3 linked regions of the Homo sapiens genome follow. The protein of the gene in region 2 purifies or fractionates together with the protein of the main gene of each other region. This does not show direct contact. Each region holds a gene or a part of one and is shown on either strand. Other genes may lie near its edges. The genes, in order: MTO1, THBS3 and FDXR.

Region 1 (3,600 bases), on a different chromosome or scaffold from region 2:
TAGCAGCATTGCAGGACCAGAAGGCAGTGACCCCCCTGGACCCAGCTTTCAATATCTTCTGTGTGTCTATTATTTCTCGACCTGCCAATCCGCCTGGGAACAAAGAAAGAGCCCCATTGCATTGTGGGCTGCTGGCCAGATCCTGCAATACCACACTTGTTTTATTCTCCAGTCAAACGTTGCCTTTCTGAGAAAGGCTGTGAATTGAGAAAGGCTGTGAATTCCAAAAGGCTGGACATTTAACCTCCAACCAACCGATTCTTCTAATTAACCAATTAGCCATCATGAATCTCTCTCTCTCTTTTTTTTTTTTTTGAGACAGAGTCTCACTCTTGTCGCCAGGCTGGAGTGCAGTGGCACGATCTCGGCTCACTGCAACCTCTGCCTACGGGTTCAAGCAATTCTCCTGCCTCAGCCGCCCAAGTAGCTGGGACTACAGGTGCATGCCACCACACCTGGCTAATTTTTTTTTTTGTATTTTAGTACAGACGGGGTTTCACCATGTTGCCCAGATTGGTCTCGAACTCCTGAGCTCAGGCAATCTGCCCCCTTCGGCCTTCCAAAGTGCTAGGATTACAGGCGTGATCCACCATGCCCAGGCACCATCATGAATCTTTCAGTCCACAAATATATTTGAACTCCTTTCGAATCTATTCTTTTTCTTTTCTTTTTCTTTTTTTTTTTTTGAGACGGAGTCTTGCTCTGTCGCCCAGGCTGGAGTGCAGTGGCACAATCTTGGTTCACTGCAACCTCGGCCTCCCAGGTTCAAGCGATTCTCCTGCCTCAGTCTCCTGAGTAGCTGGGATTACAGGTGCATGCCACCACTCCCGGCTAATTTTTTTTTTTTTTTTTTTTTTTTTTTTTTTTAGTAGCGATGGGGTTTCACCATGTTGACCAGGATGGTCTCCATCTCCTGACCTTGTGATCCACCTGCTTCGGCCTCCCAGAGTGCTGGGAATACAGGCGTGAGCCACCGCGCCCGGCCCGAATCTATTCTTATTTTCAGCCCTTAGTTTTTATAGACAAACAGAAGGTGACGGTGTATCAGATTGTCAGATCACAAAGATCTGATAAGGCAAAGTGATCAAATTCATTGATCGTAGGTGGCCACCTGGCGATAAGGACTGCAGGGCCTAAGAAAGTACAAAAGATGACCTTTAGTAGGAGCTCCCAACCCAGAACCACAGGAAATCAAAAAAAGCCCGCACGGGCGGATCACGAGGTCAGGAAATCGAGAACATCCTGGCTAATACGGTGAAACCCAGTCTCTACTAAAAATACAAAAAATTAGCCGGGCGTAGTGGCGGGCGCCTGTAGCCCCAGCTACTCGGAGGCTAAGGCAGGAGAATGGCGCGAACCCGGGAGGGGGAGCTTGCAGTGAGCCGAAATCGCGCCACTGCATTCCAGCCTGGGCAACAGAGCGAGACTCTGTCTCAAAATAAATAAATAAATAAATAAATAAATAAATAAATAAATAAATAAATAAATAAATAAATAAAAATAAAAAATAATAATAATAAAAAAAGCCCGCACGAACTAGGAAAGAAAATACACAACCGGCCCTCCGTGCGATCACCCATCTCCCTCACCAGGAAAGTAGCTCCAAACCGCCAATCAGCGGCGACGCTGGACGTAGACGTCCTACCCCGTGATATTAAAGCAAGATGGCCGCGCCCTGCAGATTGTCTCTTGTTGCGTAAGTTTTTTTGACCGTCACTCGTGTCAGCTTCAAAGTCAGATAGATTTTTCTCCCAGCATGTTCTACTTCCGAGGCTGTGGCCGTTGGGTCGCGGTTTCCTTCACCAAGCAGCAATTTCCGTTGGCACGGTTGAGCAGTGACAGCGCGGCGCCCCGGACTCCGCACTTCGACGTGATAGTCATTGGTGGAGGACATGCCGGGACTGAGGCAGCCACCGCCGCCGCTCGGTGCGGCTCTCGGACTCTGCTCCTCACTCACCGCGTGGACACGATCGGTGAGGAGCGCGGGTGCTGTGGAACTTGGCGTAGGACGCAGGCTGCTTCCTTCCCGCCTCCCCCGGTCTGAAGCGGGGGACCTCTTCCTTTCCTCAAAGCTAGTGAGAATCCTACCTTCTGTGGTTTTAGCCTCGATCAGTGTCTCGCAAGGATCAGGCGGGCCAGGCCAGAACTCTATATTAGTCTATTCTGCGAACCATAGATTATGCTGCTGCTGACAGTCGTCCGTTGTAGGAGGTTGGGGTTCGGGGTCAGTGCCTTGGGAAAGGGAGCTACCAACTACTCGCTGGTAGCTTCTTAGTTCATTGCTGCGTTTACCTTCTACTATGTTACTCCAGATAAAGGGTGAATTAACATTATTAACAATGGTTTATGGCCAGGTGCAGTGGCTCACTTCTTTAATCCCAGCACTTTGGGATGCCAAGGCAGGTGGATCACCTGAGGTCAGGAGTTTGAGACCAGCTTGGCCAACACGGCGAAACCCCGTCTCTACTAAAAATACAAAAATTAGCCGGGCATGGTGGCGGGCGCCTATAATCCCAGCTACTCGGGAGTCTGAGGCAGGAGAATCGCTTGAACCCGGGGGCAGAGGTTGCAGTGAGCCGAGATTGCGCCACTTCACTCCAGCCTGGGCAAAAGAGCAAAACTCCGTCTCAAAATAATGATAATATTAATAAAATAAAAAAATCCTTTATTAAACGGTTCTTGTGTTTTTATTTAAAAACATTTTTTTAGAGACAGGGTCTCGCCATGTTGCCCAGGCTGGAGTGCAGTGACTACTCATAGGCACGATCGTTGCACATTACAGGCTCCGCTTTCTGGACTCAAGAACTTTTCCTGCCTCTGCCTAACCAGTAGCTGGGATTGCAGGTGCTCAGTACTCTGCCCAGCCTGATCTTTGTGTTTCTGTCAAGATTTTGTGATGCCTTTTGGAAGAACCATGCTACCTTTTTTTTTTTTTTTTCTTTTGAGACAGAGTCTTGCACTGTCACACAGGCTCAAGTGCAGTGGCGCCATCTCGGCTCACTGCAAGCTCCGCCTTCCGGGTTAATGCCATTCTCCTGCCTCAGCCTCCCGAGTAGCTGGGATTACAGGCACCCACCACCACGCCCGGCTAATTTTTTTTTTCTTTGTATTTTTAGTAGAGTCGGGGTTTCACCATGTTAGCCAGGATGGTCTCGATCTCCTGACCTTGTGATCCGCCCGCCTCGGCCTCCCAAAATGCTGGGATTACAGGCATGAGCCACCGTGCCCAGCGCCATGCTACCTTTTGCATCCTATATTCCTTCTGGGTTGTCGTCCCTGGATTTTGTGTTTAGTACTGGACAGTACTTTTTTTGCTCTAATGGGTAATGGTTGGATGGCCGTTCTGTAGCATCATGATAGATACTAGCTAAAACATCAACTTGTAAATTATGTATACTTTTGTCTTTCCTCCTTCCTTTTGCTTAGGAGCGAGCAGTAATTAGAATATTTACTTGTTTTGTAAAAGTTGTGAATAAATCACTTATTTATTCCTGAAATTCTTCTTTAAAATAACCATTCAGCTCATAACTGTGAAGAAATATATACTATTAACTGCGGTTTTGTGGGTGGGGGAGAGGAGGCTATATGATTTCCTAAAAG
Region 2 (3,600 bases):
AAATCCTTTCCTCTATCTCCTCTCTTGCCATCTACCTGGTGAACATCTATCCTCAGAAGCTTTTCCTAACCAGTATCCCTCTTCTTGGAAGCACTGATAATGCCCTTCTCTTTGGCAGTATCTGTGGTCTGTTCCTACTTTAACTTATATGTGAATATTTTATTATATTTATTTGCTTACCTATCTGCCTTTCTGTAAACTCGAAGGGAGGAACCAAATTTTATTCATCTTTGCCTGGCAATGTTTAATATTTGGAAGAAATCTAATAGATCCTCTTTAAAGCAAGGAGTCAATGAATAAATGAAGCAAAGGAAGTCTGATTGCTAAGCTCTTTATACAAAGCCTGGCTGTGAGTCGTTTGGTCTAACAAACAATAGCCTCAGTAAATGCTGTTAAGTGAGGAGGAAGAGGAGAAGGGGGCTGAGGAGAAGGCAGGAATTCCAAGCTAGAGTAGGTCCCTGAGACAGTCCAGCCTAGTAAACCTCCGAATGGAGAAAAAAAATGCCCAAAGAGAAAGGATCTCCGCAAGGTCACACAGCCAGTGAATGGATGAGCAAGGACTAGAACCCATCACCTGAACTCCCAACCAGGCGTCTTTTCATTGCTGCATTAAGCCTAGAAAACTACAGCATAGGGCACTGAGGCCATATCGGCCACGTACGCTCTTTGACTGCCTCAGTTTCCCCCACTGCGCCCGTGCTGAGTAGCCCTGGCAAGGTTTGGATGCTTGGCTAGTTCGGCCCCCTCCCCAGTCATCAGGGCACAGCAGAGGGCGCCGGCGCCACCCCTCACCAGCACGGCCAGGCTGTCCAGGTCCACTGACGGCAGCCCCCAGCCCCCTGACCAGCAGAACAGCTCCATGGGCGCCGCCATCTTGCCCACCCTCTGTCCCGGAAACACTTCCTTGTGTGCTTCTGCCCTCCCCTGCCTGGGCCCGCCCCCCGCCACCGCCCCTCCGATCGTTGCGGTCAGGGGGCCTGGGGAGATCCCCGGGGAGGCGAGGCTTCTTCTGGCCCGACTGGCAGCTGAACTGCGGGGGACTGGGCCGCGGGCCTCGGGGGAGGGCGGCCGCCGGCCCATCCAGAGGTGGCCCACGTAGCGGGACAGCGCTGTCGGCCCGGCGCGCCTCGGAGAGTCACGGCGCCTCGTCCAAGTGGAGCCCCGAACCCCTGAAGGCGCGGCAGGCTCTGGAGAGCGGGGTCTTGTGCGCCTGGGCCAGGTCTGGGGGCTCTTGCCAAACTGCACGTGGCCTGTACTGCTCCAGGGCCCCTTGGGGCTCGTCCCCGAGCGGGGACTGCGGGGGGGTCCCCCGAGCAGCATGTTTTCCACAGCGCGTTATGTTTGGAGCGGGCCCTGCGCCGCCTGTCGCCATGGAAACAAAACAGGGGCGGTGGCGGCGGCCGGAGCGGAGGCCGGGCTGGGGCTTGGGTGGGGGAGGGGAAGAGAGGCTCGCAGGCTGTCGCTTAGGTGACGGGAACTCAGGCGCCCCTCTGCTTCATCCGGGTCACGGCCCGTCCGCTAGTACCCACAGTGTTCCACAGTCTGGTCCTTGGCTCCTCGCCTGTACCCCTGGTCTTCTGCGCCTGTCCCTGGTGTCCCTTTCCTCTTTTTTGGTTTCTTCACTCTGACCTCACTGACCACTGCTTTAGATTCTCCCTTCAGTTCCCGTCAGACGCTTCCAGACTCCCAAGCTTTCCTACGAATGAGGGAAAATGGAGAAACAGGCACTTGTCAGGGGACCCCCCACCCTAATAAAGAGCACTTGCTCCGCCAGAACAGCAAAATTCATGCCATGTGGGCATCCCTGGGCACTATAGCAAGCTAGTTGCGGCCACTCCCTTGGCATCCTTTCCTGCCAGCTGTGGAATAATGCCCACTGTCTAGCACTGCCCCTGCCAGGGGTTCTTGCCTTCCACAATCGTGGCTTCCAGAAAACAGTGGCATTCGGTAGCGCTGTGTGCCGAGACCCCCAACAATGATGACTGCGGAGAGGGAGGCACCTGGGGGAGGATCATTAGGGAGAGGTAGAAAGCAGGGAGGCCTCCAGGATTCTTTCCCAGTGCCCCTGGTTCCCAGAGCTGATGATGCCTCCAGGGTGATTGGCAGCTCTTTGTTTCAGCCCCCCCTCACCCGCCTGCTGGCCCCCCCTCCAATTCTGTCCCTCCGCCCCCCGGCTCCTGCTCTCTCCGCCTAGCCTTTTCCCCTCCCAGCTGCCTGCCTGCCAGGGGTAGTGAGCCGGCTGAGAGGCATGGAGACGCAGGAACTTCGGGGGGCCCTGGCTCTTCTCCTCCTTTGCTTTTTCACATCTGCCAGTCAGGATCTGCAGGGTAAGCCTGTCTCCATCCTCTTAGACCGCTCTCTGCTTCTTCCCCATTTGCCCTCAGCCCAAGTAGCAGAGAACATGTGGGCAAGGGGAGAGGGGAAGAGTCCAGAAATTGAGCCAGAGGAAAACTTAAGACTGCCTAGAGTTGGTGAAATTATGGCCTGGTGGAGAGGAGTGGGCACCGGAGAGTAGTGGGGGAGCTGGAACAGGACAGGGTCAGGCATGAGGCCAGGGCAGAGGACTCAGGAACTGGATGCTCAGGCTGCCTGGCTGGGGTGGTTCCTGAGCATCTGTAGGCACCCTAGGGTCTGGGAGAGCAGCCTGAAGGTGGGCGTACTGTAGGTCCCTGGGCTTCGTCCCCCTGGGCTCCTGGCTGCCCAAGGACAGGGCGGGGGTGGGGACCAAGAAGCCTGGGCTCTCCCGGAGGTCTGGTGGTGGGATGGGCCGATGGATGTGGGAGAGGTAGCTGGAGCAGATGACACAGGCATAGATTCTTTACTGGCTGGAGGGAAAACCACAGATTGGCCAGGACACAGGAGGCAGAGGAGCTGGGTCCTACATTCCCGTGGGAGATAGCCCAGATGGTGGGAGGGTTAGAGTCCTCAGTGGGCAGCTGTTCTTATCCAGAGCGAGTGTGCTGCGCCCCTAGGATGGGAGGAGGGGAACTAGGGTGTGGAACGAGCCAAACCCAGGAGTGGAAAGAGAAGCTGCCTTCCATTTCTACGTTGTGGACACCAGGTGCCACTCCTGTGGGGGATCAGCACAGCATCTCCTTTGCGCCACCTGGTGGGGGCATCTCAAATTTGTGGGGTGCTGTTTCTGTGTTTCCAAGTGAGTCTCAAACCTGCAGGTTCCTGGAAGGTAGTAATAGGCAATAATGGGGAAAGGAAGGCACAGTGCCTCTGTCCTCTGAGAGCAACAAGGGTTGAGGTTTTTTTTTGTTTTCGTTTTGTCTTTTTGAGATGGAGTTTCACTCTTGTTGCCCAGGCTGGAGTGCAATGGCGCGATCTCGGCTCACTGCAACCTCCACCTCTCAGGTTCAAGCGAGTCTCCTGCCTCAGCCTCCTGAGTAGCTGGGATTACAGGTGCCCGCCACCACGCCCGGCTAGGTGGTTTTTTTTTCTTTTTTGTTGTTGTTTTTGTATTTTTAGTAGACACGGGGTTTCACCGTGTTGGCCAGGCTGGTCTCGAACTCCTGACCTTAGGCGATCCACCTGCCTCAACCTCCCAAGGTGTTGGGATTACAGGTGCGAGCCACCATGCCCAGCCAAGGGTTG
Region 3 (3,939 bases), on a different chromosome or scaffold from region 2:
ACGTGCACATGCTTTCCTTGTGGAATGGGATGGGGAGGGGCTCAGGCCAGGTACAATCCTTGTTCTGATCCTTGGGCTGATCTTTGCCCACAGGGAGCTCCAAGCTACTGGCTGTGCTCCTAAGACAGGACCACATGCAGCACGTTTGGGACAGTGGCCCTTAGCTTGAGTCAGGCACTGAGCACAGCATCTCGTAGCATCCTCATGACAACCTGCAAAGCAGGTGTCGTGCCTCTTGCTTCACAGGTAAGGATGCTAGGGCCAAGTGAGGTTGTCCAAGCTTCCACCGTGGAGCAGGGATGGCACTGGGATCTGAGCGAAGGCAGCTCCATGTGAGGCCATCCATGTTAATCCATTCAGTAATCATTTACTGGACGTAACATGTTCTGGGCGCAGGCTTTACTGGGAACATGGGGGTGAACAGGACAGACGTGGTCCCTGTGCTCGAGGACCTGACATTCGAATGTGGAGGGGACAGGTGGATAATTTACAAGGTATTTTAGGGCTCTGACGGCTATAAGCACAGAGACTGGGGTGCGGGGAGGGGGTCCATGCCCAGTCTGGAGGGAGAGATGTCCCAATTGCAGTCTGAAGGACAGTAGATGTCAGGTTGGGGGACAATAGCAGGAGTGTCCCAGGCACAGAGAACTGCGTGAACAAAGAGGAAGAGAATGGCTCTCTGGGGAAAGGGCAAGTTCTGGAAGGTGCCTGTGTGCAGTAAGGCGTGAGGAGGTGAGAGCCGAGGCTGAGAGGTAGGTAGGACCCAGATCCTGGGGGGCTTGGAAGCCATTGACCAGGCTCTGGAGGCAGGTTTCGCTGGGAGGTGTCCACAGCTGCCTCCTCTTCCCTGATCAGAGTCTCCCGGGGCATCTTATCAAAATGCACATTCCTGGGCCTAACTTGGACCTAATCAAACTCTGTGGCTGGGCCCAAGAGTCAGCAATGTTAAACACCCCGAAGGATTCTTGTGCCCACAGCTGTAGATGGTTGGCTTCACTGGAGAGTTTTCGGGCTGCTGTTTTCCTTCAGGATGCCCCCTCTGCCTGCAGCGTAGGTCCAGGCAGGGCTGGTGGCCAGATAGCAGTGGGGAGCTGCTGGGGTTGTAGTGAGGAAGAGGACTGGGAGGATGGGGGATTGATGGGATCAGGTCGGGGGTCAGGGAGGAGCCCCAGGTTCCAGCTTGGGCTCTGAGTGGATGGGGTCGAGGGAACAGGAGCAGAAGTGGGGAGCGGTTTGGGGCAAGGGGACTTGGCTTGAAACTGGATGGATTTGAGATGTCTGGGGTGGGACATCCAAGGGTCTCAGGTTTGGAGCTTGGGGAGATGTCTGGGCAGGAGAGAGAGAGTAGAAAGTCATCAGCAAGTTCAGGGGAATTTGGGGTCGCAGGAGGGAGTGGGTTAAATCCTCAGGGAGGAGGGAGGGGGGCCAATCGGAAGAACCTCAGAGAATGTCCTTGTTAGCGGGGAGCAGCTAGAGGGACAGGAGGGAGGGAAGGAAGGAAGGAGGAAACCTGGAAGATGAGGTCAGCCACGAGAGATAAGGGGTAAGAACATCCGGCAGACTTAGCGTTCCGGAGGTGGCCCTGGAGAGGACATCGTGACCCAGAGTGAAGGATCTGTCGCAGGAAAGAATGGAAGATAAGGACAGAGAGGTTGGTTGGGTGAGGTGTTGACCTCTAGGCCGAGCAGTTTGAACTTTATGCTGTGGCACTGGGCCCCAGCGAAGATTTTTGAGCAAGGCAGTGACATACAACAACAGAATAGTAATGATAGCTCTCTTCTTGATTGAACACTCAGAGTAGGTTGCACCCCGGGCTGCCTGATTACTCATTTAACCTTGAGCAGGACACCACAGGGCTCTTCTTTTGGACAGAGAAGAAACTTTCCCCAGTGCACAGAGCCAGCTAGTGCTAGAGCTGGGACTGGCATCCAAGGCTACCTGTTTGACTCCAAGCCCAGAGCGCTTTGTGGGTACAACATCGTGGGGCTTGAGGGAGGTGGTTTGGGTAGCCCCCTGTGGCTGGCCTGGGATGGAGAGAGGCAGGAGGTGGGGGAGGGTGGACTTGGGTGCAGGCAGGGGAGTGGAGGGGAAGGGGGGATTTGGGCAAAGGCGAAGAGGTGGGTGGGAGCCTTTGTTGGGGGTAGGGAGACTGATGGGCAGGGGCTTCTTTGCCTTGAGTCCCAGTGAAGCTGGAGGTGTCATAGCGGGGACCTAAGATAGGATGGGGGGCTGGGCGTGTCAGCTGTGGGACCCCTGACTGCTTTACTGCTAACCGGCCTGTGGCCCAGAGTCTCACCATCCTGACCTCCTGGTGCTTTCCAGCAGCCATGAGAGAGAGCTGTCATCCATCCTAGTGTGCAGAGGGGGAGACTGAGACTTGGGGAGGCCCTGGGACTTGCTGGGATCATGTGGCTGGTTGGTGGCAGAGCCATACCAGACTTGCCTGCTGGACCCCCGACCCTGTGCCTTTCACACGGCCTCTCAAGGTGCCCTGGGAAGGCGGTCATGCAGAACCAGTGCCTGAGACTGTCTTTCTAAGAGTGGGAGCAGGCCCATTTCCACCTCTCTTTCCCGTGAATTCCCAGCCGTGCCCCCTCCCTGTCCTGCTGCTCCCCTTTCCCCAGAGCATGGTCCTGGGCACTAGAGCTAAGGCACCTGTGAATTCAGAGGGTGGCCCTCAGGTCCTCAGACTGGCTGGGACCTGAGGGTCCCAAGTGTCGAAGGGTTGGAGGCCAGGGCTGTGGGTTGTGCTTGACCTGAGAAGATAAAGAAGCCGCCCTGATATAATTCCAGTCGGGGGAAGCCACGGCCTTGTCAGCTGGCCACATTTCTCCCCATCTCTGAGGGCCGGCCGTCGTCGTCTTTTTTTTTTTTTTTTTTTTTTTTTTTGAGACAGAGTCTTGCTCTGTCACCCAGGCTGGAGTGCAATGGCGCGATCTTCGCTCACTGCAACCTCTGCCTCCTGGGTTCAAGCGGTTCTCCTGCCTCAGCCTCCCAAGTAGCTGGGATTGCAGGTGCCTACCACCACGCTCAGCTAATCTTTGTATTTTTAGTAGAGACAGGGTTTCACCATGTTGGTCAGGCTGGTCTCGAACTCCTGACCTCAGGTTATCCACCTGCCTCAGCCTCCCAAAGTGCTGGGCTGACAGGCGCGAGCCACCCAAGGAGTGAGTGCTCTTTTTCCTTGCAGAGGGTGGAAGCCTTGTGTTCTCAGCCCAGGGTCCTGAACTCTCCTGCTCTGTCTGGGGAAGGGGAGGACCTGGGGGCGTCCCAGCCTCTCTCTCTCGGCCCCACCAGCTGCCACCCTGTTCCCCAGCAGCACCCCCAGGCCCACGTGGACATCTACGAGAAACAGCCTGTGCCCTTTGGCCTGGTGCGCTTTGGTGTGGCGCCTGATCACCCCGAGGTGAAGGTGGGTGTCTCTGGGCCTGGAGGCTGGGGTTTGGAGACTTTGGTCAAGATGAGGAGGGCAGGGAGGCTCCCTGGCTGGATGACAGGACTTCATGCCGTCTGTGCCCATGCCACCCAGCTTCCCTCCTGGGGACACAGAGTGGTGAGGGTGGTGCAGACTTGGTCCCTGGAGCTGCCTTACCCTCTAACCCCTCCCATTCCCGGGGGACCTGGCAGAATGTCATCAACACATTTACCCAGACGGCCCATTCTGGCCGCTGTGCCTTCTGGGGCAACGTGGAGGTGGGCAGGGACGTGACGGTGCCGGAGCTGCAGGAGGCCTACCACGCTGTGGTGCTGGTGAGTGCAGCTAGGCCCTGGCTTGGGGAGGCAGGGGCTGCAGAAGGAGGCCGGTGGCTCGGGGTGGAAGGCAGCAGGGGTGAGGCCAGGATGCAAGCTGCTGAGAAGCTGGAAGGAGGCCGCTGGGAGCCTGGGGGGCTGCCCGGCCTATCAGTGCTGGTGCTGAAGGCTGTGGGTCTCGGGCCTGCC

Evidence for each region.
Region 1: the proteins of THBS3 (region 2) and MTO1 purify together in Homo sapiens (affinity purification with mass spectrometry; 3 studies listed by BioGRID and IntAct, with this or other methods). This does not show direct contact.
Region 3: the proteins of THBS3 (region 2) and FDXR purify together in Homo sapiens (affinity purification with mass spectrometry; 3 studies listed by BioGRID and IntAct, with this or other methods). This does not show direct contact.

Annotation. Positions count from the first base shown.
Region 1 is NC_000006.12:73,460,099-73,463,698, forward strand, and holds the start of MTO1 (5-taurinomethyluridine-[tRNA] synthase subunit MTO1, mitochondrial), read left to right. Parts: upstream 1-1,638; 5' UTR 1,639-1,756; coding exon 1,757-1,973; intron 1,974-3,600. UniProt on the Homo sapiens protein: Component of the GTPBP3-MTO1 complex that catalyzes the 5-taurinomethyluridine (taum(5)U) modification at the 34th wobble position (U34) of mitochondrial tRNAs (mt-tRNAs), which plays a role in mt-tRNA decoding and mitochondrial translation.
Region 2 is NC_000001.11:155,206,525-155,210,124, reverse strand, and holds the start of THBS3 (thrombospondin-3 isoform 1 precursor), read left to right. Parts: upstream 1-2,227; 5' UTR 2,228-2,248; coding exon 2,249-2,327; exon of another isoform or gene 2,328-2,904; coding exon of another isoform or gene 2,905-3,154; intron 3,155-3,310; exon of another isoform or gene 3,311-3,408; intron 3,409-3,568; exon of another isoform or gene 3,569-3,600. Other genes in the region: MTX1 (metaxin-1), read right to left, coding at 793-1,320. UniProt on the Homo sapiens protein: Adhesive glycoprotein that mediates cell-to-cell and cell-to-matrix interactions. Can bind to fibrinogen, fibronectin, laminin and type V collagen.
Region 3 is NC_000017.11:74,866,257-74,870,195, reverse strand, and holds part of FDXR (NADPH:adrenodoxin oxidoreductase, mitochondrial isoform 1 precursor), read left to right. Parts: intron 1-1,442; exon of another isoform or gene 1,443-1,630; coding exon of another isoform or gene 1,631-1,651; intron 1,652-3,190; coding exon of another isoform or gene 3,191-3,319; coding exon 3,320-3,412; intron 3,413-3,627; coding exon 3,628-3,750; intron 3,751-3,939. UniProt on the Homo sapiens protein: Serves as the first electron transfer protein in all the mitochondrial P450 systems including cholesterol side chain cleavage in all steroidogenic tissues, steroid 11-beta hydroxylation in the adrenal cortex, 25-OH-vitamin D3-24 hydroxylation in the kidney, and sterol C-27 hydroxylation in the liver.